Regions from separate parts of the Homo sapiens genome. Here regions 1, 2, 3, 4 and 5 are each linked to region 6. Evidence: fine-mapped expression QTL. A gene starts in region 6. Each other region holds a variant in brackets. All regions are shown on one strand. Distances are from middle to middle. Region 1 overlaps CDCP1 (CUB domain containing protein 1). Region 2 has its middle 15 kb from the start of LARS2. Region 3 has its middle 40 kb from the start of TMEM158. Region 4 has its middle 36 kb from the start of CLEC3B. Region 5 overlaps LOC105377061 (a long non-coding RNA gene). Region 6 holds the start of TMEM158 (transmembrane protein 158).

Region 1 (5,075 bases), 110 kb before region 6:
AAAGAAGTTAGAAATGAAGCAATCAAGGTGGGTCTGTAGAACCAATCCCTTGTCATTTTTTTGAAAACAAGTATCACATGCAAAAAGGACAAAGAGAATCACCCCGTTTGTTTAATAGAGAAGAGGGGGTTCACACTAGGAATGCATGACCCATGTCACTTATAAGAGAGCTAGATCTTCCTTTATGGTTTTTATATTGAGTATTAGAGATTTGCTGACATTTGACCATTTCTGACCTAGAACAATGATGATCTTGTGTGTTTTAACCTAATCAGATAGCAGGGAGGGGCTTTCTCACGTTTTATAGATGAGCGGTTTGCAATGCTGAAGCCGGAGACATTTCTGGGGTGGAACCATGGGAGGTGTAAGGCCATTTTCACTCCTTCTTGCATCTTGATCCGGGACACAGTGCCATTGCTGCAGAAGGTTCCGATCCTGACCACGGTGGCATCGATTCGGCCGCTGATGGAGTGAGTGACTCCGTCTGGGCAGCTCTCACCCGGACCGATCTGCCTCAGGCGAGGGATGGAAAACTGCAGCTCTAAACCGATGCTCTTATGAGCTTTGACATCCCAGATGAAAGTTCTGTTGAGGGTAGGCAACAACGATGTCGAGGGCTGAAGCTGAACCTCCCCAAAAGGACATGGGCCTGACATACAGTCTGAAAAACAGTCACAGAAGCAATTTTGATCACAGATGCTCCAAGGCCCCACACCACTCCTCCTCCACCACTCAGCCCCCTGTAGTAGACTCTTTGGGGCTCCCCCAAGGTGGCCTTTACCAGGCAGGGGCACCCAGGCCCCAACTGCTGTGAGTCTTAGTGGCCAATGGCTCACAGATGTACCCTCCTTCGGGGAAGTGCCTCAGCTCGGGGGAGCTGCCTTGAACCAGAAAAGCCTGAGAGGTGTTGCAGCCCCTCATGCCCATCCCAAGGGAGAGGTGCTGTCTACAGCCAATAATGGCCTCCTGCAGGAATTAAAAAGTCTGACCTCCTTGCTTCAAGTGATGTAACCTGGGTATGCCATTCATACTCCAGAGCTCCCCATGGGGTCAGGCTGAAGCTACTCTTCAGCTAAAACCGCATCTGCATTCAGCTACGTGCCCTGCTCTATCCTGCTTTCCTCACTTCTGAGAGCACTTTCTTGATCACTGACTTAAACAAAAAATCCTGTCTCAGGCTCTGCTTCCAGGTCACCAGACTTGAGACATCTCTTAACTACTGTGATTTCCAGATTAAGTTCCTGGGGTCCAGTGGGTGAAGCCAGAAGGAAGGCATTTGTAGCAGAGTCTGTGCTTTGGGATCTCCTACTTCTCCTGTACTAAGAGAGTCACGATTTCACAATTTGTAGAGCACAGTGCCAAGATCCATCCTTTAAAACTGGTTTCCCCATCAACACATTCATCAACATAGCAAATATACTCTGAACGTGCAACTCCCCTGGACAGCTGGAATCTGGCGGCGCCATTTCTCTTCTTGCACTGCCTTAATGCTGATATTTTATAACCACTGCAGTTGAATTTCTTTTTTTAAGGCTAACAGCTAATAACATCCTTTGATATATTTGTTTCCTAAGCCTTTTAAAACAAAGCAAGAAATATTATCAAAGAGAAAACAAGAGGAAAGTGAGGGGACGAAACAGAAAGTAGGCAATGTAACATTAAGGTTTTGTTGTTTTGAGCAGGGGGCATCTGAAAGGTGTGATAGACTCTGGCCTCCATAATAATAATTTGTGAATCTTTACTGCTGTTCTATTGGGGTATTTGAAAGTATTGTCCACTCAAAATAGAATTATGGAGAATTTCAGATCAGTCTTGGATCTCTGAGGTCATCCAAGCCAGACCTCTAATTTTTGCAAAGCAGCTGTGGATCCAGGTGACTTGGGCTGGCACTTGCAGCAAGTACACGGCAATTCCAGATCCCAGGACGAAAGCTCAGGCTGTGTTTGGTCAGCCCTTTCTTGCCAATGCGCTATGCTGTCTAACCAATAACACAGGGTTAGATAACATGGTGACTAACGTGACTAAAATTAGACTTTGC[G/A]TGTTAGTAAAGGTAGTTCCTATTTTAGGAGCTCATGGAAACTTCAATGTTTATATCAAGCCACCTCTTTCTTTCAAAAGCAGACCTCAAGTGATTTTCCACGCACACCTCCAGTGTGCCCAGGGCAACATCAGTTGGCTCTGGCTAGGTTCTGTACTCTTGTGGAAACATTTAACTCTAGTAAGGCAGTGACTCTTAGCTCTGGTTCTACCTACAACTCACCTGCAGGCCGTTTAAAAACTACACATGCCTGGACCATCCCAGGGATTCTGATTTAATTCTATAGTAAAATCTGGAGTCAAAAAGCCCCATCTCCCAGCCTCAGCTCTGTCAGCAGCCATGTGACACTGTGAGAGTCAGGTTATGAAAGCAATTTTTCATTTGATGCTAAGAGCTTTGTTTTTTAGGATGAACACACAGGTAAGAGTAGTCAAAATGATTGGCATGCCTCGGAATCTTCTCCTGTACTCTGTCCAGTGAAAACATTTTAAATAACTAAAATGATTCCTGTCCAGAGGATGGAGAAGTATTATTTCTGAAGTGATTCATAAACTCATTTTCCCCAGCAGATTTCTAATTTCATTAACTCTCTTTTTTTTTTTTTTCTTTTTGGAGATGCAGTCTTGCTCTGTCACCCAAGCTGGAATGCAGTGGCACCATCTTGGCTCACTGCAACCTGTCTCCCAGGTTCAGGTGATCCTTCTGCCTCAGCCTCCCAAGTAGCTGGGACTATAGGTGTGTGCTGCCATGCCTGGGTAATTTCTTTTGTATTTTTAGTAGGGGTTTCACTATGTTGACCAGGCTGGTCTTGAACTCCTGACCTCAGGTGATCCATCTGCCTCAGCCTCCCAGAGTGCTGGGATTACAGGCATGAGCCACCATGCTCAGCCAACTTTCATTAGTTCTCATGGAACTATTCAAGAAGAGATGAGAATGGAGACATCAAATTTTATCTGATGCTGATTTCAGAATGATTGTTCAGAAAAGGCAATGAAGGGCAGGTGGACCACTGGACCTGATTCAGTGTCTAGATTTATTATTTTAGAAATTGATATTTTCATATCATTTTCAAAAGTTGTGAGCATGGGTTTTTACTACATAGTAAGCCATGTGGGCATCCTAGGATTGAGAGACTGAATGCATTCAAAGGCTTGACTTGTGAAATGTGTCACTTGTTACATTTTTCCTTTTTCAAAGTGGAAGTCACTTTATTGGTTTAACTGATTATAAAAGTAATGTACAGTCGTTTTAAAAACAAACAAAAAGACAAGTGGGTGTGGTGGTGTGTGCCCAGCTACCCCAGAGGCTGAGGTGGGAGGATCACCTGAGCCCAGGAGGTTTGAGGCTACAGTGAGCTGTGGTCACCACTGCACTCCAGCCTGGGTGACAGAAAAAAAAAAGGTGGGGGTGGGGTGGGGTGGGGCGGGGAAGTACAGAAAAGTAGAAAGAAGAAAATGTCACCTGTTCCCCTCTGCCATCCCCTATAGAGTAGTATAAAGTTAGAATTTTGGAGTTTTGGAGTTTATCCCTCCAGACTTTGGGTTCTGTATGATTGTGTGTGCATGTTTGTGTGCATGTATGTAAGTGTGCATGTGCACATGTGTGTATTTAATAGAGTAGCATCAAACTATATAAACTATTGTCCTACTATAAGCTGCATTGTTTTTAATGGAACAAAACTATTTTGGGCATCTTTCTATGTCAAATACACAAACTTACTTCATTCTCTTAGTAGCAACACACCATTCCACTGCGTTCTTAAATATATCAACGTTCTCTTTAACTCTGTAAAAGCTTCATTAAAATTTTAATTATAATTGACTTAAATTGATAAATTAATATAGGGGAGAATTTACACTTTAAAAATACTTAGTATTTCTTTTTTTTTTAAATTTTTTTAAGACAAATTCTCACTCTGTCATCCAGGCTAGAGTGCAATGGCACAATCTCGGCTCACTGCAACCTCTGCCTCCTGGGTTTGAGTGATTCTCCCACCTCAGCCTCCCGAGTAGCTGGGACTACAGGCACATGCCACCACGCCTGGCTAATTGTTTGTAAAAATATTTATTTTTCCTATCAAGGAACATGGCATATCTTTCCATTTATTTAAGTCTTCTCTTTTGTCTTTCAACAGAATTTTATATTTTGCTTCGTATACTTTATGTACTTATTAAGATAATCTCTATATATTTAATTAGAGATTCTGAATAATGGTGACCAAGGGCATGCATAATAAGCCTCCTTATGTTATTGCCTGTTTTATTGGTAATGCTGCCATATCTGATAGTTAAATATGGTATTTGCTATCAGTTCTTGATAGATGCTCTTTATTGAATTAAGAAAATAACCTTCCATTCCTGATTTACTAAGAGTGTTTTATGAAAGACATTTAAAATCTATGTTCATACTGTTCTGTTAAAAAAAAAAAAAAAAGACATCTAAAGTCATCTATTGAGATGATCATATACAGTTTTTTCTCTCTAACCTAATAATGCAAAGCATCACATTAACTGATTAGCCAGGTGGTTTATGTATCATCTATGGCAGATTTCACTCTGTAATAGAAGAGTTGAGGAGCCATAGTGTTCCGTTAAAAAAAAAAAGACATTTAAAATCATCTATTGAGATAATCATATGTAGTTTTTTCCTCTCTAACCTAATAATGCAAAGCATCACATTAACTGATTTGCCAGGTGGTTTATGTATATCGTCTACAGCAGATTTCACTCTGTAATAGCAGAGTTGAGGAGCTGTGACATGATACAAACCTCCTGGCTCACGGGCCTAAGACACCTACTATCGGACCTTATCTGAAAGAAGTTTGCCAACCTGTCTCTAGAATGGTTTGAATGTCATAGAAATTATCTGCTCCTTGAAGTTTTATAGAACTCACTTGTAAAATCATCTCTAACTAACCCAAACTGTTCTCCCCTGTCTCGGGCATTTTTTCCAATCCCCTCCTTGGTTATTTATTTATTCAGTTTTCCTACCTTTCCATGAGTCAATCCAGCCCATTAAATTTTCTTTGAAAATCATC
Region 2 (5,075 bases), 150 kb after region 6:
GAGACAACCCACAGAATGGGTGAAAATATTTGCAAACTACCCATCTCACAGGGATTAATCACCAGAATATATAAGGAGCTTGAATAACTCTGTAGGAAAAAAAAAAAGTAAAAATCTGATTAAAAAATGGTCAAAAGATTTGAATAGACATTTCTCAAAACAAGAGATACAAATGGCAAACAGGGATATGAAAAGATGCTCAACATCTTTGATCTTCAGAGAAATGCAAATCAAAACTACAATGAGACATCATCAGGCAATAACAAACGCTGGCAAGGATGCGGAGAAATGGGAACCCTCACACTGTTGGTGGGAATGTAAATTAGTACAATCACTATGGAGAACAGTTTGAAGGTTCCTCAAAAAACTAAAAATAGAGTTGCCATATGATACAGCAATCCTACTGCTGGGTATATACTCAAAAGAAAGGAAATAAGTATATCAAAGAGATATCTGCACTTCCATATTTGTTGCAGCAGCGGTTCGGTTCTGGGATGGCTGCAGCAGCTCCTAAGGTTTTTATTACACACAGAAGGAAAGAGAATCTGGGATCTAGTATTCCTAGCAGAAGTCCTGTGCTTCCCCCTGATTGCTCTGGCTTAGGTCATGTTTCTGACTGAACTGTCTCTGTGTTCCTGGGATAGAATGAGCTGAGTAGTTTACACCGCACCTTAGACCTGGGGATGCAGGTCAAGTCCATAGACTAAATGGCCCAGAATTGGGTCAAGGGGTAGTTTCCTAAAGGGAATTCCAAAAGTGATGATTAGGAAAGAGGGAGGAATAGATGCTAGGAAACAATAGATGATAAGCCCATCTATACCTTAAGCGATTTGGTTATCACAGCTGGGGCAATTTTATTGAAAAGTAATTCATATAGTAGCATGTATCTTGAGGTTTGCCTTCATCTCCATACTGGGAGACTGAAAGTTGTTCCCAGAAGATCTAAATCAACATCTAAAATGTGACAGCTGCCAGGCAAGGTGGCTCACACCTCTAATCCCAACATTTTGGGAGGCCGAGGCGGGTGGATCACCTGAGGTCGGGAGTTCGAGACCAGCCTGACCAACATGGAGAAATCCTGTCTCTACTAAAAATACAAAATTATCCAGATGTGGTGGTGCATGCCTATAATCCCAGCTACTTGGGAGGCTGAGACAGGAGAATCACTTGAACCCTGGAGGCGGAGGTTTTGGTGAGCCGAGATGGCACCATTATACTCCAGCCTGGGCAATAAGAGCAAACTCCATCTCAAAATAAATAAAATAAAATAAAATGTGACAGCTCAGGTAAGAATATACCTGGTTAAAGCATGGAAATAAATACCAAGTTGGAATTATGTATTACTCTTACACTTCTAGGTCATTTCTAGTGAGTTTGCCTTACCTAGAGGGGTAAGCAAGGAGGAATAGTCTTGTTTTTACCTTAAGGGGATGAGATGGTCAAAGCAATAAAGATTCCCATTCCTGGAGATGTTTGCCACAGGCTTTTATATTAGCCAAATAGAGTGCAGAGCAAGCAGCAAGAAGTAGGGAAAATGAACAGAGGGCAGAGAAATAATGTCACACTGATTCAAGTGACACGATGTTAAGGGATTCCACAAATAACTCAGCAAATTGATCATTAAGAAATTTTAAATACTACTTAAATTAATCCAGAATGCCTAAACCCTGGCAGGTTCCAACAGAGTAGGTGAGGCAAGGTGAGGTAGGAAGGGGGTGAGGAGGTAGCATGGTGGGGACCACAAAGACCATCTGAGAGGGTGGTTGGGAAGCAACAGTAGAGAGGAGAGAAAGAGAGATAGAGAGAGAAAGAGGGAGAGAGAGAGAGAGACTTGGAGGGTCAGGTTCCAGAATATGAAAGACACACAGATGGGAAGACAGGCAGAGGCACCCAGTCATGGAGTAGAATTAGACACAAAGATTCCCTGGAGGGCAGAGAGCCTGGCCAGTTCATCGCTGTAGGCCCATTTCCTGATGCGGGGCCTGCCTGTTGCGGGGTTTGCAGCATTGGCTGAATGAAAACCAAGGCAAAGGAGACAAGCAGAGAAGGACGACAGAGCTGGAGGGGGAGACACAAGGGTGGGAGATGTGCGGTGGTTCAGGCTGAAGATCAAATGCAATAAAAGAAAACAGGTAATTACATTGGGAAGAAAGTCAATTTTGCGGGTGTCCATGTGTAAAAAGTAAAGTAGAGGTTCCTTTTCAAAGACTTTCCTCCCCATCTAATTAGGAATAAATAGTAACTTCTCTTAGAAGCAAAATTTATTGAAAGACCTGTGCTAACATTCTTAAATATCTGCTAGCCATAATAAGGAAATCAATGTACTTTATGTTCTTAGCTCC[C/T]ACAATTTAGCTTAAATATTTGCCCTAGCATGCTTATACTGGTCCAAGCAAGCATTAGGTCATAGCCTGTTCCTCTTCCTTACTTGAAAGTGTTTTTACCTTTCTCAGCATTCCACAAGTTACTTCCTCCTTCCTTTGTTCCCTTCTACCTTTGCCTCTTTTAAAAAGTTCTAAGTTGCTAGCCAATCAGGACAAATACAGAATGTGAGGTCCCGCTCCAGCCAGTGGAAACCAGACACAGCAGTAGGGTGAATGTGTCAGGTTATAAATGACCCTGTTTCCTTTGTTCAGTGTACTTTTGTGGCAAAACTGCTAGCAAGTGTACCCTTTCTGCAGGAAGTAAAAATGGCCTTACTAAATAAATTAAATTTATGTTCAAGTGCTATTTCTTTATGGCACCAAGGAACAAACATTTCAAACACATTCTACAGAAGCTTCCTATGATGTGGAAAACCAAGATAGTGTAATTTTTGAAAAAGGACTAAGCTTAAAGTTAAAAACTAATAAATACTTATTTTTTAAAGCATTTATTTATTTTTATTTATTTATTTTTATTCTTCCATAGGTTATTGGGGTACAGGTGGTATTTGGTTACATGAGTAAGTTCTTTAGTGGTGATTTGTGAGATTTTGGTGCACCCATCACCTGAGCAGTATACACTGCACCATATTTGTAGTCTTTTATTCCTCACTCCCCTTCCATCCTTCCCCCTCAAGTCCCCAAAGTCCATTGTATCATTCTTTTTTTTTTTTTTTTTGAGATGGAGTCTCACTCTGTCGCCCAGGCTGGAGTGCAGTGGTGCGATCTCGGCTCACTGCAAGCTCCGCCTCCCGGGTTCAGCCATTCTCCTGCCTCAGCCTCCTGAGTAGCTGGGACTACAGGCGCCCACCACCATGCCCGGCTAATTTTTTGTATTTTTAGTAGAAACGGGGTTTCACCGTGTTAGCCAGGATGGTCTCGATCTCCTGACCTCATGATCCACCCGCCTCGGCCTCCCAAAGTGCTGGGATGACAGGCGTGAGCCACCCTTGCCTGGCCCATTGTATCATTCCTATGCCTTTGTGTCCTCTTAGCTTAGCTCCCACATATCAGTCAGAACATACGATGCTTGGTTTTCCATTCCTGAGTTACTTCACTTAGAATAATAGTCTCCAGTCTCATCTAGGTTGCTGCAAATGCCATTAACTCATTCCTTTTTATGGCTGAGCAGTATTTCATCATATGTATATATCAGTTTCTTTATTCACTCGTTGATTGATGGGCATCTGGGTTGGTTCCACGATTTTGCAGTTGTGAATTGTGCTGCTGTAAACACGCATGTGCAAGTATCTTTTTCATATAATGACTTCTTTTCCTCTGGGTAGATACCCAGTAGTGGGATTGCTGGATCAAATGGTAGTTCTACTTTTAGTTCTTTAAGGAATCTCCACACTGTTTTCCATAGTGGCTGTACTAGTTTACATTCCCACCAGCAGTGTGGAAGTGTTCCCTGATCACTGCATCCACACCAACATCTACTGTTTTTTGACTTTTTGATTATGGCCATTCTTGCAGGAGTAAGGTGGTATCACATTGTGGTTTTGACTTGAATTTTCCTGATCATTAGTGATGTTGAGCATTTTTTCATATGTTCATGGCCATTTGTATATCTTCTTTTGAGAATTGTCTATTCATGTCCTTACCCACTTTTTGATGGAATTGTTTGTTTTTTCTTACTGATGTGTTTGAGTTCATCATAGAGTCTGGATATTAGTCCTTTGTCAAATGTATAGATTGTGAAGATATTCTCCCACTCTGTGGTTGTCTGTTTACTCTGCTGATTGTTCCTTTTGCCATGCAAAAGCGCTTTAGTTTAATTAAGTCCCAAATATTTATCTTTGTTTTCATTGCATTTTCTTTTGGATTCTTGGTCATGAAATCCTTGCCTAAGCCAGTGTCTAGAAGGGTTTTTCCAATGTTATCTTCTAGAATTTTTATAGTTTCACATCTTAGGTTTAAGTCCTTAATCCATCTTGAGCTGATTTTTGTATAAGGTGAGAGATGAGGGTCCAGTTTCATTCTCCTACATGTGGCTAGCCAATTATCCCAGTGCCATTTGTTGAAAAGGGTGTCCTTTCCCCACTTTATGTTTTTGTTTGCGTTGTCAAAGATCAGTTGGCTGTAAGTATTTGGGTTTACTTCTGGTTTCTCTATTCTGTTCCATTGGTCTATGTGCCTATTTTTATACCAGTACCATGCTGTTTTGGTGACCATGGCCTTATGGTATAGTTTGAAATCAGGTAGTGTGATGCCCCCAGATTTGTTCTTTTTGCTTAGTCTTGCTTTGGCTATGCAGGCTCTTTTTTTATTCTATATGAATTTTAGAACTGTTTTTCCTAATTCTGTGAAGAATGATTGTGGTATTTTGATGAGGATTGCGTTGAATTTGCAGATTGCTTTTGGCAGTATGGTCACTTTCACAATATTGATTCTACCCATCCATGAGCATGGGATGTATTTCTGCTGAGACCAGCTCAGTTGGAGAGACCCTAACCCAGCAGCGCTAGAAGAATTAAAGACACACACACAGAAATATACAGGTGTGAAGTGGGAAATCAGGGGTCTCACAGCCTTCAGAGCTGAGAGTCTCGAACAGAGATTTATCCATGTATTTGTTAACAGCCAACCAGTCATTAGCATTGTTTCTATAGATATTAGATTAACTAAAAGTATCCCTTTTGGGAAACAAAGGGA
Region 3 (5,075 bases), 40 kb after region 6:
TCTTTCAGGGGTATCTGCTCACCGTTCCTCATTCTCCAAGACCTGAAGCCACCTCTGCACCGACAGGATGGGCCCTGTGGTCTCCTGTGTCTGCTCTGACCCTGCTCCTCTGGCCAGAGCTGGTGGGCACACAGCCTGACATGGCCTGAGCTGGACCCTTAAATCTTACCTTTCAGAAATTTAGATTGTCATTGAGAAATGAGGTAGGTCACTCTTGGTCACATGACAAGGACAAAGGGATTTAGGGGTGTCCCCCTTTGGCCCCATGCATGGGCATATACAGATAGGAAGTGAGCAAAGAGAGAACAGCAAAGACCTGCAGAGAGATGCAGAGCCCAGGGACCCTGTGATATCCAAAAAGAGCATCTGAGAGACGCAAAAGAGGACATGCTGTATGGTTTCATTTTTACAACGATCTAGAAAAGACAAAACAAATCTAAGGTGGTAGAAATCAGAACAATGGCTTCCTGGGGCAGGGTGTGAGGGGAGTTGGACAGCAAGGGGCCTGAGGGAACTCTGAGGGGGTGTAGTGATTACATGGGTGTAAGCATTTGTCAAAACTCACCCTTCTATACACTTAAAATATGTGCATTTGGGCCGGGCACAGTAGCTCACACCTGTAATCCCAGCACTTTGGGAGGCCGAGGCAGGTGGATTGCTTGAGGTCAGGAGTTCGAGACCAGCCTGACCAGAATGGTGAAATCCTGTCTCTACTAAAAATACAAAAATTAGCCAGGCGTGGTGGCACATGCCTGTAATCCCAGCTACTCAAGAGGCTGAGGCAGGAGAATTGCTTGAACCCTGGAGGTGGAGATTGCAGTGAGCCGAGATCATGCCATTGCACTCCAGCCTGGGTGACACAGCAACACTCCATCTCAAAAAAAAAAAAAAAAGGAAAGAAAAAGTGCATTTGATTGTATGTAAATTATACCTCAATAAAGTCAACTTAAAAAAATTAAAAGAGGAAAGAGTGGCAGTCATTCACGGCCTCTGTCTTTCCCGCCAGCAGCTGGGGAGAATGGTGTCTGATTCTCTTCTACAGTCTGAGCATTTTGTGGGACCCTTGGATTCTTTTAGCAACTTTCCCCTACCTTCTGCCTAAGCCCATCTGAGTGGGTTTTTGCCACTTACAGCCCCAAATTTTTGAACAAGATAGTTTTGTGACAACTGACCCTGGAAAGGAACAGTGTCAGGGGTACAGTAATGTGTAATTCCCTGGGTTTGTGTAAGCCTCTCAAAAAGGGGACTTGCTCCTCTCCACTAATCCAAGCTTAAGTGTCTCCTTCCAGAGCTTTTCCCAGTCATATAAGATAAAGTGACGTATGTGTATATGGTAGACATCAGTTGAGTTAATCCATCCAAAATCGATTCTACCTTCCCCTGGAAACAATAACCCAATTTCTTTGGGGACCACCACCCATCCAGCTCACATTTTTGCTTAGTCTGTGAGACTCAACTGAGGGAGACCGACCCCACCTCCTGGGACAAGGGTTGGGATATGGCCCAGGCCTGGTCCCAAGAGCATCCCCCTCCCCCAGCCCATATGCAAGCTGGGCCACCCTCTCCATCCCAGAACTGTTGGGGTACTCTGGAGGCAACGTGCTGTCTTCCTGAGCCTAGAGCTCTTTGAGCCCCTAGATCGAGTTACAGTTAAAGCTCCAGATCTTCCCCCAGACTTTATAATTGTAGGAACCAATTCATGTCCTTTTCTTGTTTAAAAGCTGAGTCTCTGCCACTTGTAAGAAAAAATGATCTGAGTCGGATGATATACATATTCATAGAGATTTAAAAAACCACAATTGGCATCATAACATCCATACTGGTCATCAACTTAGTTTTTAAAATGTCTTCACTTACATAACATCATGGATCTCTTTCCATTTCTGTACAGGCTACCTTCCCTTTCTCAATGCTGCACAGTATACACAGCGTGGGTAAATTACAATTTACTTAACAGGTCCCGCTTCATGAGGATGTCCTCTAAATTGGTTTTACACAATTTGCTAAATTTTTATTGTTGTGGTTATTAAAGAAACATATACACTTGATCGAGACAAAGTTGAACCACTAGAAAGGCCTAAAATGAAAACTCATCTGCCACCACTCCTCTCCTGTGCCCAGTTTCATTCCCCGGGTATCACCACGTCTAAGAGTTCCCAATTTTCCACTCCTCTTTTGGTTCCCCGCTGCAGTCATCTGTTTTGTTTTTTTTTTCCATCCTTCATCAGCCTTAGAATCCTATTTGATTTTTTTCTTTCTCTAGAGAATAATGAGCTTGTTGATGTAAAATTCCCGTTACCAAGAAATAGTCATTGTTAATAGTGATAATCTAAGCCGAGGATATAGAGATTCATCTTAAAGTTTTCCCTCAAGAAGATCACAGTGTAGGAAGGGAAAAAGATAGATAAATAAGTGAAGGAAAGTATTCTAAAACTTCATAGAAAGTTCAGTGGATTGGGAGGGTGAGGTGGGCAGACTGCTCAAACTCAGGAGTTCAAGACTCAGCTTGGGCAACACAGCAAAACCCTGTCTCCACAAAAAATACAAAAATTATAATCGGGCATGGTGGTGTGTGCCCATAGTCCCAGCTACTCGGGAGGCTGAGGTGGGAGGGTCACCTGAGCCCAGGAGGTGGAGGCTGCAGTGAGC[C/T]GAGGTCGCGCCATTGCACTCCAGCCTGGGCGACAGAGTGGGGCCCTGTTTCAAAAAACAAACAAACAAAAAATCCCAAAAGTTCAGTGGAGGTTCAAGGGGAAGAGGCATCAGTTCTAGGTGAGGATCCAGAGAGGGATTCACAGAAAAAGTGATTCCTAGGAGAAGAGTAGGTATTTTCCAGGTGGGCAAGGAAGTGAAGGGCAATCTGCTCCAAAGCAGAAGGAAGGAAGTAATGATTCAGGGAGGGTCTGGTGGAGTGGGAAAAATCACTTTCACCTGTCAGCTTATTCTTCTTGGATCCTAGATTTTCATTCTAGGATATTTTACTTCTTCCTGGAGTACATCACTTAGATGTTTCTTTAGTGAGGATTTGTCAGTGGCAAACTCTCTTACTGTTTACGTTACTGAAGATGTCTCTATTTTACTCATTCTAGAAACATGGTTTTGCTAGGCTTATAAATCTAGTTGACAATTATTTCTATCACCACTTTGAAGACATTATTCCACTCTCTTCTGGCTTCTATGTTTGATGTTGAGAAGTCAAATTTGATCTATCTTGGCTCCTTTGTGAGTAATCTGTCTTTTTTTTCTTCAGGTTTCTTTTAAGATCATCCCTTTGTCTTTGACATTCTGTAGTTTCACTACGATGTGTCTGAGTATGTCCACCTTATGACTTATCCTGTCTGGGAGTTTCAAAAACTTTCTAAATATGGGGATTTATGTCTTTACTCAATTCTGCAAAACCCTCAGCTCTTATATCTTTGAAAATTACCTCTTATCGCACTCTCTATTATCTATTTTTGGAGCCCTGATTAGATCTATATTGGACCTTTTCACTCCATCATTTAATTTTCTTAACCAGACTTTTCCATATCTTTTTGTCTCTGAGCTGCATTCTGTGTATTTTCTTTGGATCTACGTTTGAAATTACAGGTTCTCTCTGCAGTTGTGTCTATTTTGCTTTTCAACTCTTCTACAGATATTTTAATTTCTATTACATTCTTTATTTCCAGAAGCTTTGTTTGGTTCTTTTTAATATGTCTGCTTATTTTTATAAGCTCCTGCTTCTTACTTACTTTCAAATTATCTCTGTTATTTACTTAATCGTATTAAAATCATAGTTTATATTTAATAATTCTAATTTTTTTTCTTTTGACTCTTACTCATGATGGCTTGCTTACTTGGGCCTTTTCTGATTTTACATTATGAGCTCATTTATGATGGGACTTTTCCAGTAGGAATTTTATGAGGGCTGTGTTGTGCGTACATGATTGCCTCCGTCAGGAGCTTTGGGCACTGTGGACCTAGGTTCTTCTAAATTCTTATCTTGGGATATTTTGGTATATTTCAGTGTACATTCAGACATCACACCTAGAGGAGGGTTGGCCACTTGCCTTCAAATCTCAGGAGAAGTTTTCATTTTTCCTCCTCTGCCAGAACTGATTCTGAGTCACTGTTTCTTGAAGTCAGCCTCTGCTAGGTAGGATACCCTTAACTTCACCCTTTCCTGAAAGTGTAACCCCCTCCGAGGCTTGGATTTGTGCAAAATTTTGTGGCTCTGGATCTATTACTGCTCAGGTCTAAGGCTTGGTTTACTGTTCATTCCTACCTCTTCCCCTTACTATCTGCTTCCCTATGAAAAAAATCCTAGGCTACTTTTCCCTAAAGATGATCTCAAGCTGTGAAGTGCTTTTTGGCTTGGTCTTTGTTTACCTTCAAAGGCTCAGGTTCCTCCTGCTTTTCTGAATCACAGGTGATTCTCTTACTTTGCTTTGTTGCAGACCATTTCATTGCTATGAAGATTTTGCATATACCTATACCTATATCTATATCTATCTATCCATATATCTCCTCCATATCCTCAGGGGATTGGTTATATATGTACATATACACATGCATATAGGTATGTGTATAACCAATGCACACAGTTGTTCCTTGGTATCCATGGGGGATTGACCAGGACTCATCGCAGATACCAAAATCCGAGGATGCTCAAGTCCCTTCTATAAAATGGGGTAGTATTTGCATATAACCTACACACATCCTCCCATATACTTTTAAAAATATATACCTACTTTATAGAGGAGTCTCATATACTTTAAGTCATCTCTAGATTATTTATAATACCTAATACAATGTGAATGCTATATAAATAGTTGTTACACTGTATTGTCTTCTTGAATTTGTATTATTCTTGTTGTATTGGGGTATTTTTTCCCAAATATTTTCACTCTGCCGTTGGTTGAATCCAAGGATGTGGAACCCAGGAATACGGAGAGCCAACTGGATATGCACCTGTGTGTTTAGCACATTAGAATATTTTTCATGTAGAAGGAAGATTTTAGGATGTTCAAATTGTTGACTTCTACGGGCATTCCAATTTTCTTTGCACTGGCTTATCTTTGTACATATTTATTATCTTC
Region 4 (5,075 bases), 160 kb before region 6:
TGTAATCCCAGCACTTTGGGAGGCCGAGGTGGGCGGATCACTTGAGGTCAGGAGCTCGAGACCAGCCTGGCCAACATGGTGAAACCCTGTCTCTATGAAAAATACAAAAATTAGCCAGACATGGTGCCTGTAATCCCAGCTACTTGGGAGGCTGAGGCAGGAGAATCACTTGAACCCAGGAGGTGGAGGTTGCAGTGAGCCAAGATCGCACCACTGCACTCCAGCCTGAGTGACAGAGTGAGACTCCGTCTCACAAAAAAAAAAAAAAAAAGAAAGAAAAAAAAAAAAGAGAGATCAGCAGCCACAGAACACACCTTGGAGTCACATGGGTATAGCAGAAGGGCCCCCTTCCCTCACACCGGGCAGCAGGAGGCTGGACTTCTCCCATCAGTTTGCCACTTTCTTGCTGTGTGGCCTTAGTGTCAGAATCACACATTCTTTGGATTTCCTTATAATGGATCAAAAAAGAAAGAAAGAAGAAAGAAAGAAAGAGGAAAGAAAGAAAGAAAAGAAAGAAAGAGAAAGTGTGAGAGAGAGAGGAGGAGGAAAATAATCAGTTCTGCTGCACTTGCCTCACTGGGTGGTTATAAGGACCGATTCAATTCAGAATTTATTGAGTTGTTGTGTGCCCAGCACAGTGATGATTGGGGTAAAAGAGTGCTTGTGAAAGTGCTTTGCAAATCAAAAGAGAAGGTATTGACCCACACTATTGATCCCATTGAGATCAAAGACCCATGAAACCAAGCCTGCAGGCTGGCCTCATGGTGGCTGCAGCTACCAGGGGTGGGCATGGGGTGGGGTGGGGGGTGGAAGTCTTAATAGAGGGGTAGGGGGGGCAGTCCCTTAGGTGGAAGGTAGGGGAAAAGACTTAACCCAGGAATATAAAATAATCTTGCCACTGCTAGGACTGCAAACAAGCTCAGGGAACGCTGTGGGTGTCAGGCAGCCAACTAATTAGTGTTTTGTGAAAAGAAAGGAATCAAGAATGAAATTGGCCCCTGCTGGTATCCTGAGAGCCAGTGAGCCAGCCCAGGGTCCACAGTGCAGACTGAATTCTCGTCTGTGGCAGAGTGCTTCTTTACTTTTCTCCTGCAGAGCCATGGATGTGGATTTTGGCTAAAAATATTTTTTCCCCTCAAATGACATAGCAACCACAAAAGAATTTTCTGAGTAGTCCCTCTCACATGCTGGGTTTCTCTCCCTGAATTCGAAGGAGCAGCTGGACCCCTCACAACCCCAGTCCCTAGACCCCAGTCCCTAGTCAGAGTGGTTTCTTGCATCTCCAGTCTGGATCCTGGAGGGGTCAGATAGGAAAGTCCTGGGCAATGTGAAGAGGCTGGGAAAGGGCCTGAAATCATTTCACCAGCTGGTGCCAGGACTCCTCTTTCCAGATGGAGGGAGCCCAGCACCTCTTCTCCCAGGGCTGGTTGTCAGCCCCTGAGGATGGGGGTATCAAGGCCTGGGGATACCAAGGTCTGAGTGTCGGGTAGAGGATGGGAGCCCCAGAATCACCTGGAGGTGGTGTGGAAGAGGCTTCCAGCAGTATTTTGTGAAAGGAAAATATTTGCAGTGTTTTGTGAAAGGAAAATAAAAACTTGGTACCCCAATTCACTATATCAGAGGCATTTGAACCAGAGTGACTCCATCTTGAATAGGGGCTGGGTAAAATGAGGCTGAGACCTACAAAATGAGGCTACATTTCTAGATGGCTAAGGCATTCTAAGTCACAGAATTTGACAGGTTGGCACATGATGCAGGTCATAAAGACCTTGCTGATAAAACAGTTTGCAGTAAAGGAGCCAGCTAAAACCCACCAAAACCAAGATGGTGATGAGAGGGAACTTTGGTCATCCTCACTGCTATGCTCTCACCAGTGCCATGACATTTTACAAATGCCATGGCAATGTCAGGGAGTTACCATATATAATCTAAAACGGGGAGGCATATATAATCTACCCCTTGTTTATAATTTCATCAAGAAATAACCACAAAAAAATGGGCAACCAGCAGCCCTAGGGGCTGCTCTGTCTATGCAGTCTCGCTCTGTCACCTAGGCTGGAGTGCAGTGGTGCGATCTTGGCTCACTGCAACCTCTGCTTCCTGGGTTCAAGCTAGTCTCCTGCTGCAGCCTCCTGAGTAGCTGGGATTACAGGAGTGTGGCATCATGTCTGGCTAATTTTTGTATTTTTAGTAGAGACAGGGTTTCACCATGTTGGCCAGGCTGGTCTCGAACTCCTGACCTCAAGTGATCCACCCACCTCGGCCTCCCAAAGCGCTGGGATTACAGGCATGAGCCACCATGACTGGCTGGAGTAGCCATTCTTTTATTCCTTTACTTTCTTAATAAACTTGCTTTCACTTTGCTCTATGAACTTGCCCTGAATTCTCTCTTGTGTGAGATCCAATAATCCTCTCTTGGGGTCTGGATCAGACCTCTTTTCTGTAACACCATGACAGTTTACAAATGCCATGGCAATATCAGGAAGTTACCTTATATGGTCTAAAAGGGGGAGGAACCCTTAGTTATGGGAATTGCCGGTCCCTTTCCCGGAAAGTCATGAATAATCCATCCCTTGTTTAGCATATGATCAAGAAATAAGTAAACATAAGCAGCTGAGCAGCCCACGACACTGCTCTGCCTATGGAGTAACCGTTCTTTATTGCTTTACTTACTTACTTTTTTTTTTTTTTTTTTTTTTTTGAGACAGAGTCTCACTCTGTCGCCCAGGCTGGAGTGCAGTGGCACAATCTCGGCTCACTGCAACCTCTGACTCCCATGTGATTCTGCCGCCTCAGCCTCCCAAGTAGCTGGGGCTACAGGCG[A/T]GCAACCACACCCTGCTAATTTTTGTATTTTTAGTAGAGATGGGGTTTCACCATGTTGGCCAGGCTGGTCTGGAACTCCTGACCTTAGGTAATCCACCTGCCTCGGCCTCCCAAAGTGCTGGGATTACAAGCGTGAGCCATGGTGCGCGGCCTACTCCTTTACTTTCTTAATAAACTTGCTTTCACTTTATGAACTTGCCCCGAATTCTTTCTTGTGTGAGATCCAAGAACCCTCTCTTGGGGTCTTGATTGGGACCTGTTTCTGGTAACAACTATGGCAAAGGAAAAAAAATTAAGCTGAAAGCTGAGTTGTGGAAGAAGCTGCCTTTCCTTTCATTTCTAAGCAGACAGCTACAGATAAAATGTTACAGAATTTCCACAGGTAGCTATTCTAAGTTCACCTTATCTTACGTAAAGTGCAGATTTACTGAACAAAAGATGAATATATAATTGACTATTCCCCTACCTGCTCCCTTTCTCACAACATGTGGATTCAGTAATATGACCATATCCTCCCTTTTTTTCCTCCAGCCTGCTTTCCTCCTTTAAATATCAAAGCCCTCAAAGTCATCTTTGGAGAAAGGCACAGACCTGCCTCCTGAGCACTTGTCCTTAACCTCAGCAAAATAAAATTCTAAATTGATTCAGACCTGTCTCAGATACTTTTTGGTTTACAATTTCTTTTCCTTTTTTTATTAATTAATTATTTTATTTATTTACTTATTTATTTTTGAGACGGAGTTCTGCTCTTGTTGCCCAGGCTGGAGTGCAGTGGTGCAATCTCGACTCACTGCAACCTCCACCTCCCAGGTTCAAGCGATTCTCCTGCCTCAGCCTCCGGAGTAGCTGGGGTTACGGGTGTGCGCTACCACGCCCGGCTAATTTTGTAGTTTTAGTAGAGACGGGTTTTCTCCATGTTGGTCAGGCTGGTCTCGAACTCCTGACCTCAGGTGATCCGCCCGCCTCAGACTCCCAAAGGGCTGGGATTACAGGTGTGAGCCACTGCACGCCACTTGGTTTATAATTTCTACAGCACATCTTCTAATCCATTCTATCCATGAGCCTGTTAGGGAGACTCAGAAAACAATGGACTCAGTAGATGCTGGCAAGACTGAAATACTTTGTGGGGACATTTATTAACCACAGAATCTTGAGTCTTAACAAGGTTTTTTTGTTTTGTTTTTTGTTTTCTTGAGACAGATTCTCACTCTGTTGACCAGGCTGGAATGCAGTGGTGCAATCTCAGCTCACCACAGCCTTGACTTCCCAAGCTCAGGTGATCCTCACACCTCAGCCTCTCAAGTAGCTGGGACTGCAGGTACACACCACCACACCTGGCTAATTTTTTGTATGCTTGGTAGAGACAGGGTTTTACCATGTTGCCTAGGCTGGTCTCAAACTGCTGGCCTCAAGGGATCCGCTTACCTTGGCCTCCTCAAATGCTGGGATTACAGGTATGAGCCACCATGCCCAGCCAAGTTTTAACAAGTTTTTTTTTTTTTTTTTGAGATGGAGTCTAGCTCTGTCACCCATGCTGGAGTGCAGTGGTGCGATCTCGGCTCACTGCAACCTCCACTTCCCGGGTTCAAGCAATTATCTGCCTCAGCCTCCCGAGTACCTGGGATTACCGCCCGCCACCATGCCTGGCTAATTTTTTTTTTTTTTGTATTTTTAGTAGAGACAGGGTTTTACCATCTTGGCCAGGCTGGTCTTGAATTTCTGATCTCGTGATCCACCCGCCTCAGCCTCCCAAAGTGCTGGGATTACAGGCATAAGCCACTGCACCCAGCAGAGTTTTAACAAGTTTTTAAATGAGGTTTTAATTTTCATTTTATTTTAAAATTGGAGATACATTCTCAAGGTTCAAATTCAAAAGTTACAAAAGGGTATACTGTGAGAAGTTTTCCAGCCCCACAGACTTCTTTGAAGTCACACACTATTCATAGTTTCTATTTAACAAGATTTTTTCAAACTTAAAAAATAAAATAAAAAGCTTCCCAAATTCTTAGAAGCTATTTAGAGATACTGACTTTGCTCCAACTTAACTCTACAGTGGAGAGGAAGTGATGAGTTCCTCTAAAGGAGTGGTGCTGTTCGTCCAGCCTGGTGTCATTGAGGAAGGTGTCCGTGGGGGAGGTGGGGGTGGAGTAGGGAGAAAATGTTACTGGAAAACGGTCCCAATCCAGACCCCAAGAGAGGGTTCTTGGACCATGTGCAAGAAAGAATACGAGGTGAATCCATGAAATAAAGTG
Region 5 (5,075 bases), 94 kb after region 6:
ACTGAGGGGCCCAAGATAGAAGGAGAGACCGAGGCAAGTTTTAGACCAGGAGGGAAAGTTTATTAAAAAGATTTAGAGCAGGAATGAAAAGAAGTATAATTGGAAGAGGGCCAAGTGGGCAGCTTGAGAGATCAAGTGCTCTGTTTGACCTCTGACTTGGGGTTTTATACGTTGGCATGCTTCCAGGGCCTTGCGTGCCTTCTGCCCCTGATTCTTCCCCTGGGGTGGGCTGTCTGCATGCACAATGGCCTGTTAGCCCTTGCGAGGGGCCAGCCACAAATACAGTGTGTTTACTGGAGTTATACGCATGCTCACTAGAGACATTCTTCCCTTACCAATCTCTAGCATTCCTAGAGAAGGTCATATACCAGTTAAATTCTGCCATTTTGCCTTTTAGTGTACGTGCATGAGTGCACTCACCTAACTCCTGAAATCTTACCAGGAAGCAGCTGATCACCAGTTTCAGGTGTTTCTGTTTATTGGGAGACTGCCTTTCCCTGGTGCTGGCTGCAATCAATTATTATTTTAGAAAGACAGTTAAGGCCAGCGGCCGTGGTTCACACCTGTAATCCCAGCAATAATTTGGGAGGCCAAGGCAGGTGGATGTTCTTTACTAAAAAAAAAAAAAAAAAAAATTAGCTGGGTTTGGTGGTGGGTGCCTGTAATCCCAGCTACTTGGGAGGCTGATGTGGGAGAATCACTTGAACCCGGGAAGCAGAGGTTGCAGTCAGCCGAGATTGCACCATTATACTCCAGCCTAGGCAACAAGAGCAAAACTCCATCTAAAAAAAAAAATAAAGAAAAAAAGAAAGACAGTTAACAAACTGCCTATCACCTGATGGTCACCTGACACTCCTGGTTGTTGGTGGTGGGGCTCTTCTGTCCTGCTCATGTCTGATTAGCTACCTACTGTAACAGTGGGACAGGTGGCTGGGAAGGCAGAGAGAGGGGAATGGGACCTCTGTTTTAACTGTGTTTTCTTAGACTCTGAATTTATCTGTTTGACATCCTTTCATCACTGGGCCAATTCCTCTCTTTTCTTATTTTCTGTATTCTTGATGCTCTAGCATTTCTGACCTTGCTGAGAGAGACTGCTCCTCCCAGGGCTAGCCAATTATTAGAGATAGCAAAGGGCTCCCTTGAGGATGCCTTTCATATGAAAACTAACCAAGCCTGAGCCCTGGATTTACTCCCTCCACCCCGCCCCCCGCCCTACATCAACCCAGGGCCCAGTGAGTGTCAGACAACTAGGAACAACCTCTATGGCCCCAAAGCCATCCAGAATCATTTACTCCTAAACTGCTTACCCTATCCCACCTTATCTTTCCCACAGAAACCCTAATAAATAAAGGCTCTGGCCCAGGCTTTCCCCTTTATGATTTGCTTTTGACTCAAGGATTCTCTAACTCAAGAGTTAATTAGGCAGTTCTGGGCCTAATGAGGGCATGTACAAGTTTCATCCACAAGGAAGGGTGGTCTGTGGAGCTACCATTTCTGCCACAGTTCCAGGGTGGGCTTAGGTCAGGGCAGCAGGGGGCTTCCCTCCCCCAGCCCCAGGAAAAACAAGTATTAATGTGTTGGAGTTAGGGTAGGGGTCCAGATAAATCTTCCTCAATATAGGTTTAGCCACGCAGCTTTACCTGAAGGCCTACAGCCCTGGTCTGTCTGGGAGGGTGTGACTCCTGAACTGGAGTCACTCCAAGGCTCAGCGGGGAGCTGATCCTCAGGGCCCTGGGAGCACAGTAGATGTCCCTTTAGACATTTAGAGGCATGATTCCAGGAGGGATTTGTGGAGGAGGAATCACAGGAGCTGGGGCTTTGTTGACTCCACCATTTGGCCTAAGTCGTCCTCCCTCCCTCCATTTTCTTGCAAGTCCTCCCAACTTGGGAACATTTTGTTAAATACTCCCATGTACACACCACCCCCTGTTCACCATGTTCCTGACACTTAGCTCCTCAGTGGGTCCCCTCCCTGGCATTGAAACAGAGGCAGATTTAATACGGTATGAGCATCGTAGGGAAGGGGGCAATAGAGTCGACATGCCAACGAGCCATGGCAGGAAGCTCTCCTTCCACTACGGCTGAAAGATAAGATCCGGAATGGCCCCACTACCCTGCCAACCCCATCTATCCTCATGGGGGCTGCTCTGGAAAAGGGAAAGAGGCTGAGTTGAAAATATTTGTTCTGTTTATTTCATTCTGGTCCCACATAACAGACCTGGAGGCAACGATGAGCTCTAGGCTACAGACAGGCTGCCTTGTGGAAGGAGCCAGCTGGTTGCTGAAGGACTGTGGCTGCCTCTCAGATGGACTTGTTTGTCTTACAAAGCCCAGTCCGATTGTCCCCAGTGCAGATGGCAGCTGGCATGAGACCCTAATTGGAAGAGGATCCTGTGACCTCCAAACCATGGAAGAGGATCCTGTGACCTCCAAACCAATTAAATGATTTCTCAGGAGCTGGGAACAGCTGCATGAGGAAAGCGCTTGTGATTGCTTTGAGAAATGGGTGATTTTTTTTTTCTCCCATGGAAGTCGCTTTAGTGATCTTAAAAGGTGTTGGCTGTGGGTGCTATTCAGGTCCAGAAAATTGGTCTCGGGAGAAGGAAGAAAAGTGACATTAGCAACCTGGCTTTTTCAACACAGGCTCTAACGAGGCTGAGATGGGTTGTTGGATAAATCATTGCTTCCAACTATCAGGAAAGTTGCCTGGCCCGGAAATAGGAGAAGGAACTGCAGATACACTTCTTTGATTGGGCAGAGAATTTAGGGGATTCGGGTTTGGAGCCTAAATCGTCACTGCAACTCCATTCAGGAACGTCCCTTGGGTGATGAAACTGTTCTATGTCTTGATTGTGGGATTGTTGCAGGATTATACGCATCAATCAAAACTCACAAAACTGTAAACTTCAAAGGGTCAATTTTACTCCATGTAAACCGTTCCTAATTTTAAAAACACACATACACAGTATCCTCTAGGCCTGCTCTCCTCACCTAGACCCAGGCAGGCCTCTGTGTGGTCTGTTAATCCCCTGCCCTGCTCACACCTTCTGGGGATCCTTGTGAAATTTTTAGAAAACAAGGAGGAGGAGAAAAAAACACCAACATAGGATTATGAACACGGAGAGATCTCTAAGTCCCCGGGGAGTTCTGATAATCCCGATGCCCAGGCCACCC[C/A]TGAATGGTGAAGTCAGAATCTCTGGGGCTGGGACCTGGCCTCATGATATTAAAGTTCCCCACCCGCCAGGTTGCCTGTAATAACAGACTGAGACCCCCACTCTAAATGATGAGTGGTTCATCTTTTCAATCCTTCACTGTTCTGTCTTTGGAGATTGTGTCAGAAGACCACATTTGAGGCTCTACATTCTCCCACCCCTGCCCACACCACCCCAAACTTCAGGGGCTGGGTGCCCCCAGATTTCTGTCTTGTTGCTATGGGGATTTTCAATAGGCTCTTCTCTCTCTCACCCAAGAATCAATTTGGAACTCTGGCCGCGGGCTTGGACTGCCTCCTGCCACCTGCCATTCCTCCTTAACTTCCTGCTAACATGTGTACATATCGTGTCCCCAGAGGAAGGAACTCTGGTTCCAGCTCCCCGCACTGTGGGTGAGAGTCCCCATGAACGCTAAGACAGGGCAAATCTCTCAGCCTCTTTGAGCCTCAGGCTTCTCATCAGCACGATGGGGAGGGTTGATGAGAGGATGTGCAAGGATTCACTTTGGAAATATAAGCATTCAAAGTCTAATTAATATTTCTTATAGATGGTGCCCTGGGGGTGGGACCTCGTGTCCTTCATCTCTTGATTTCCGACAAGAGTCACTGCAGCATCCTCACATGAACCCCCGATTATAGTTTGCCAAATTAATTATTATTAAAGCCTGTTTCTCATAGAGAAAACAATCAAGCCACTTTTGGGCTGAGAAATCTTCTGGATCCCAGTAACAAGTGGGTGGGTTAGCTCAGAGCTCAGTGCAGGCCTCTAAAACGGCAGAGCTCCTGTTGGGGAACCTGAAGTGTCCCAGGTTTCTGAGGACTCCTGTCCTCACAGAAGCCCTGTGACTGTGACTGTGCCCACCCGCCAGGAGGCAGGACAGTGAGCTCTGCCTGCCCACGAGCGCTGTCCCTAGCACAGCACTGGATTGTTCTGTTTCCTTTGAGGCACTGATGAGGTACGAGACTGTCTCCTCTGGAGGGGAAAATTAAGAGGCACAGTGGGGAGCTGTGTTGTGTTTTGAAGCTTTTCCAGAATTGATTTTGTTGGGAGACATTTTTTTTTAAAGAGTCCTTTCTTGAATGTTGGCAGAGTGGACAGACTGCCAGAAAAGGCTGTGATCCGGACACCCCACCCTGTCTGTGTGAGGTTGCCCCTGCCCCTCCGCAGTCCTAGGGAGGCTGCCCATCCTACCCAGGGTGCTGTGGGCTCCCGCTCAGGGGAAACAAGCCCAGGTGTGTGCTGCACTTGGCAGATCTGCTCAGGCAGCATCCGCATTTGTTTCCCATGGTTACTATAACAAAGTGCCACCAGCTGGGGGCTTAAAACCACAGACATGTATTCTCTTGCGGTTCTGGAGGCCAGAAGTCTGAATCAAGGTGTCTCATGCTCCCTCTGAAGGCTCTAGGGGAGAATCCTTCCATGCCTCTTCCTGGCTTCTAGTGGTTGCCCCCAAATCGTTGGGTGTTCCTTGGTTTGTAGCCAATCTCTGCCACTGTCATGATGTCACAGAGCCTTCTTTCCTGTGTCTTTATGTGACCTTCTTGGGAGGACATTAGTCATTGGATTTAGGGCCCACCCTAATCCAGTATGACCTCATCCTAACTAATTTTATCTACAAAGACCCTATCTCCAAATAAGATCCAATTAGACCTGAATTTTGGGGGGACACTCTTCAGACAGGTACATTATTCTTGGGTCTCGCTCACTCCAAGGCCATAGCGCCCTCTCCTGAGACCCTGCCCTGTGTTTTTACCCCAGTACCCATTGAGGAGCCACCATGGTCATGAGTTGGCATCTAGTGCAGAGTCTGATTGAACTCTATCAGAGGGGTCTTGTAGCAGCCTGAGCAGGGTGAGCTCAGCA
Region 6 (5,075 bases):
GGACTTTTTACTTATTCTTCTGAAAACCTGGAAGAATTTGAAACTACTACACAGCAGACACTGTAACATGGAAACCAAGAGTGAGGAAAATCTTGTGATCATTAACTATTTATCCCCCAAGAGTTTATCTTTTTAAAAAATCTAAATGCCAAAATAATATCTCAGGTTTTAATACCAGCTTTTGGAATGTGCTTATCTGCTAAAGTTCATGCATATGAAAAGAAATCTACATGCCTTTTAAAGTGAGTCATTTTCGTGAAAGCCATCCAGCTCAGAGGAACTATTGATTTTACCATTTTGATGCTTGCCTGGGTGTTTTGCAGAGCTTAGAACAATGAGCAAAAAGTTAAATCATATAAAACTGTGTTTGCCACCGTGACAGGTGGGGGGTGGATGGGAACTGAGGGTCAGTGTGGTGAGATGCAAGACAATCGCCATCAGGGCAAATAATACTGTTTCCATCTATCTCTCACAGCCAGGTAAAGGAGACAGAAGTAGCCCTTCTCTAACTTTTCCGAGATTCCCTTGCTCAGGTTTTAGGGTAACGTCTTGCAATTCTGGGATTCCCTTTCCCAAATCAAATAAAGAAAAAGCTACATACACATCTCTGGAGGAAAATGTCTGTATTAAAAGCCAAAAAACCACATAAGTACAAGAAGAAACGCCCACCAGGCCACGTCACTGGATAGATCAACTTGGAAAAGGTTCATAAAGTTCATTTTCAGCGGTAACAATATATCGGTGTTAAATCCTTCCCATGCCCTCCCCCCAATTTTAAATAAATTAAAAAACCACAAATTTCAAATACAACTATGTTCAGATACAAAGAGCTTCTCTTACTACAGCAATAGCAATTTAATCTTTTTGTTTTGTATTTTTTTTACTAAAACTTTCATTTAAAACAGTTATTAAATATATAAAACAAATACACAGGATTTGGTCATTTTCTGCCATGAATCTAGGGCACGTGGGTGCGGGGAAGGAGTCGGGCAGGGGGATGCAATAGAGGGGAAAGGGCCCCATTTCCCTCCTCTCCGTCTTCGGAGCTGCGATCCCACCCTCAGTCCAAGGGCTTAAACATCTGCTTTTCGGAACTGGAAGCGCAGCACAAACCTTGCTTTTCAAAGGCGCTGGGGTCTCTCGGCGGCCCCATCTCGGGAAGAGGAACTAACGATAACTACAGCACGAAGCACACCGGCCGAGTCTCCGGCGGGAAAGGCACCCGCGCGCGCGGACACAGGACGGACACAGGGAGGAGCGGAGCGGGTCACTTGGTCGCCACCCCCGAAGTGACGGCCGCGGCGGCGGCGGCAGCGGCGGCGGCGGCGGCGGCTGCGGTGGTCCCTGCGGGCACTGCGGCGGGGGTGGCTGCGGTGGTGCTGGCGGTGGTCCGGCGCTGTTCCATGCCGTTGGGCAGGAAGCCGGCGATGATGGGCACCGGCCAGATGAGGGCGGCCACGCTCCACACCACGATGACCAGGGTCATGAAGCAGGCCACCAGCGTGGACTCAATGGGCTTACGGTTCAGCCGCCAGCCCGGCTCGCCCTGCAGCTCCTCCAGGCTGAAGTCTAGGCAGCAGAAATGCAGCGGCTCGCCCTGCAGCCACAGCGGCCCGGGCGGCTCGGCCGCGGGGTAGGCTGGCAGCGCGGTGGGCGCCCCGGCGGTGGCGGCGGCGGCGCTGGGGGCGGCGGCGGGCCGGAGGCGGCCGGTGCGGCGACCGCGCACCCAGCCGCAGCCCACGCAGAGGCGCAGGTCCTGCTGCGCGCCGCCCGCCGCCAGCCCCAGGTGCTCGATGAGCAGCGGCGGCCCGACGCGGTGGAAGGCGGCGGCGAAGAAAGCGCGGCCGTGCGCGTTGGTGGAGAAGAGCAGTAGGTCGCACTGGAAGCCCCGCGGGCGGCCCCAGCGCACGAGCAGCGAGCTCAGCATCTGCCGCTGCACGCTGATGTTGCACGGCGCCGCCGCCGCCGCCGCCTCCTCCGGGCCCGGGCGCTCGGGGGGCCCGGGGGCCGCCGAGGCCAGCAGCCGCGGGGCGATGGGCTCGTCCGCGGAGGACGCGTTGACTGAAGCATTGGAGGGCACCCCGAGGAGGCCGGGCGCGTCCGCGGCCCCGCCGCGGACGGGCGGCAGCGGGCAGGCGGCGGCCAGGAGCGCGGCGAGCAGGGGCAGCATGGCCTGCGGCGGGCGCCTACGCGCGCGAGGCCGGCGGCGGTTGCATGGCGAGCGGGCGACGGGCCGGCGAGCTCACGGTGGGACCGCGGGAGCCGGCGGCCGGGCGCAGTGCGGGCGCGCCGGGCGCCTGCCAAGCCCGCAGGGGCGGCGCGGAGGCGGTGACGGCGGCTGGCTCGGCGCGGGGATCCCTCCAGACCCGGTTGCGTTTGGGGTTCCCCGCCGCCCCCGGCGCCGGGGCCCTTGGGCTGCCGCGCTGCTCTGCGGGGCCGGGTGCTATCCCAGAGCAGGATTCCCCGGCTCGGCTCCGCCTCCCGCGTGCCCCGCCCCGCCCCGCCCTCCGCTCGCCAGGCTCGGGGACTCAGGGGAGGGCGGGGTTCCACGCGCCGGGGCTGGGAGAGGAATCGCCGGGGCGGGGCTGGGTGCGGGGGCGCGGCGGAGAGCGGATCGCCCGGGGTGCGTGCGGGCGGGCGGGGAAGCCTGCGGACGCGCCCGGGCGCCCCCGCGCTCCGGGTGAATCGCGTTCTCAGAGGGAGGCTCCAGGGCCCGGAGACCATCCTTTTGTCAGGCCTGAGGGGAGCTTCGCTGTCTCGCCTTAGTGCTACCGAACCTCCTTTGTTTTACAGAAGGGGAAACTGAGGTCGAGAGAGGGGAAAGGGCCTCGCTAGGCCAACTCATGAGCCAGAAACAAGTCCGCGCCACTAGCTCTTTCTGCCTTTTTACGGTGTCTCTTACCTCAAATCTGTAGAGTTTGGCTGCTTTTTAATGGCTCCAACACAGCAGACTCACTTGGGATTCTCCTCGCAGCAAGCGAGGAAAATTCCAAGAACTCTGTGGAGTTTCGAGTGGAGAGTGACTGGCTGGGGGGAATGTGAGCCCTGAAGCTGTGCCGCCTGGGGGTCCCGAGGACACAGGTCCTGACAGGTCGAGTGAGCGCGTGTTCATGAAACAGTTGTAGGTTAGAACCCACGTCAAAGGGGCAGTTCATCCCCTTTGGGATATTATACGGGAGGAGGGCTACCAAGAATAACGTGTCAAGAGATCAGATTTATCACATTTATATTGAAAAGCACTTTCTTAGTAGTTCGGCCCCTCACACTTGGAAACAAACTTCAACGACCCTTCATCATTCCCATCGTTCTTTAGGGGACATTTATGTTGAATTATTATCTATTTTATTTTAGTTGGAAGCCCTTGTACTCCATGAGCACCAAGTATTCCTGATTCGGAGAGGGGAGGGGTGGAGGGAGCAGAGAAAGGCCTCAACAAAACCGCCTTCCTTCTAAACCAGCTAATCCTGAGAGGTCTGCCAAGAGTCCAGCTACATTGCTAGGCATCCTGGCTGATTACTTTTCTGGAAGCTTTTGTCCATTGTTTTCTAACAATGAGTAAAATGGGACTGAGAAAGTTGCAAAAACGCCTCAAAATAAAGCTCCCCAACTTATTCCACCTCTTGCCATCTAAGCAAGCCATTATTCTGACTTAGCCTTGGTTTCCCCATCTGAGTTGGGGGGTGGGTGGTACCTCCTCACAGGGCTGCTGTGATAATACTCCCAACCCAGTGTCTATCTGTCCCCAGATGTTCCCACATGGTGGTTGCTGTGATGTGGTTACTAACAGTGCTGCCCAAGTTGGCTGCCTAGAGTGGTCCTTGGTTTCTACAGAAATGGTTCATTTCCCCAAGGGGATGGGACTCCCTTTTCGTTTCAGCCTCCATCACTTTTGTGCTTGGAAGTGGTGCTACCAGGGAGAACAATGTGAATTTTCCTGCTTTTAATAAAAATGACTTCTCCTTTCAACCTTTGCATATCAGGAACAGAAGCTGCTCAGTGATGTGGCAGAACAGTTTTAATTTAAGCCATGTGTCTGGTGAACCCTGAAGAACAGGAATATCAAGTGATCCTGAGGGCTGAGGGAGGCCTAATCTTCAAGGGGTGCGTTTTGAGCCAGGCTGTTGCCTGTGACTGCAGATGACATTCTCTGGGGTTTCAGTCAGAGGCAGAGGCTTCCTGAGCTTTCCTGAGACACTCCTGGCTTTGTCTGTGCAGGGGGGAAGGCAGCAGCAAAGGGAAAAGACAAGAGATCTATTTGGGGAGCCAAGCAGTTCCCTGCAAAGTTGCGCCACTGAAGCTCTGCATCCTAGCAACCTGCATTCTGCCCACTTTTCCAGCAGGTGCCGTCCTGAGGACTCCGTCACCTCGCCCTCATTCAGAATGTAATTACCCTTCAAATAGTAACACAGATCCTACTTTCTAGATTGATTTGCTATCTTTTTGGAATTTGAGAACAGAAGATAGCGAGGAAGTTATTTTCTATCTTGTTTACTACTGTTCCCAGCAACGGGAAAAGCACCTAGCTCAGGGTAGAGGCTCAGTAAATACATTTTTGTTTGTTTGTTTTTTTGAGATAGAGTCTTGCTGTGTCACCCAAGCTGGACTGCAGTGGTTCGATCTCGGCTCACTACAACCTCCGCCTCTCAGGATCAAGCCATTCTCCTGCCTCAGCGTCCTGAGTAGCTGGGACTACAAGCATGCGCCACCACGTCTGGCTAATTTTTGTATTTTTAGTAGAGACGGGGTTTCACCATGTTGGCCAGGCTGGTCTCAAACTCCTGACTTCAAGTGATCCGCCTGCCTTGGCCTCCCAAAGTGCTGGGATTACAGGTATGAGCCACCGTGGCCGGCCAATACTTCTTGATTGAACAAATTTGCCTACCTCTGACTAGCTTCCGCTTGTTTAGTACTTTCCACGTGCCAGGTGTTTGACACATACACACACATCATCTCTAATCTTCACAACAATCCCATGGATGTGATGCCTATTTTACCATGAGAAAACTGAGGCTCAGAGAAGGTGAATCACCTACCTGAGGTCCCACAGCAGTTAGTGGCAAAGCCAGGATATCAGT

What was found. PIP is the estimated chance that this variant, and not a neighbour inherited with it, causes the effect. A credible set is the group of variants that fine-mapping cannot tell apart.
Region 1: its variant is the best candidate, but not a certain one, in a credible set for the expression of TMEM158 in gastroesophageal junction (GTEx, PIP 0.62).
Region 2: its variant is the best candidate, but not a certain one, in a credible set for the expression of TMEM158 in nasal epithelium (TOPMed, PIP 0.57).
Region 3: its variant is the best candidate, but not a certain one, in a credible set for the expression of TMEM158 in whole blood (INTERVAL, PIP 0.76).
Region 4: its variant is the best candidate, but not a certain one, in a credible set for the expression of TMEM158 in fibroblasts (GTEx, PIP 0.65).
Region 5: its variant is the best candidate, but not a certain one, in a credible set for the expression of TMEM158 in whole blood (INTERVAL, PIP 0.77).

What each region holds. Positions count from the first base shown.
Region 1 is chr3:45,111,785-45,116,859 of GRCh38, forward strand. It overlaps CDCP1 (CUB domain containing protein 1), which reads right to left. Exons shown (of 9, transcript NM_022842.5): 3 at 299-661. Among named protein-coding and RNA genes, the nearest start is that of CDCP1, 32 kb to the right of the region's middle. The variant G/A (reference allele first, on the strand shown) is at 2,039.
Region 2 is chr3:45,371,484-45,376,558 of GRCh38, forward strand. No RefSeq gene overlaps it. Among named protein-coding and RNA genes, the nearest start is that of LARS2, 15 kb to the right of the region's middle. The variant C/T (reference allele first, on the strand shown) is at 2,343.
Region 3 is chr3:45,264,030-45,269,104 of GRCh38, forward strand. No RefSeq gene overlaps it. Among named protein-coding and RNA genes, the nearest start is that of TMEM158, 40 kb to the left of the region's middle. The variant C/T (reference allele first, on the strand shown) is at 2,650.
Region 4 is chr3:45,059,671-45,064,745 of GRCh38, forward strand. No RefSeq gene overlaps it. Among named protein-coding and RNA genes, the nearest start is that of CLEC3B, 36 kb to the left of the region's middle. The variant A/T (reference allele first, on the strand shown) is at 2,824.
Region 5 is chr3:45,317,717-45,322,791 of GRCh38, forward strand. All of the region lies in intron 2 of LOC105377061 (a long non-coding RNA gene), which reads left to right. Among named protein-coding and RNA genes, the nearest start is that of LARS2, 68 kb to the right of the region's middle. RefSeq lists an enhancer at 4,283-4,783. The variant C/A (reference allele first, on the strand shown) is at 3,175.
Region 6 is chr3:45,223,858-45,228,932 of GRCh38, forward strand. It overlaps TMEM158 (transmembrane protein 158), which reads right to left and starts at 2,430. Exons shown (of 1, transcript NM_015444.3): 1 at 609-2,430. The coding sequence starts at 2,170. The coding sequence ends at 1,268. RefSeq lists silencers at 2,257-2,326, 2,337-2,676.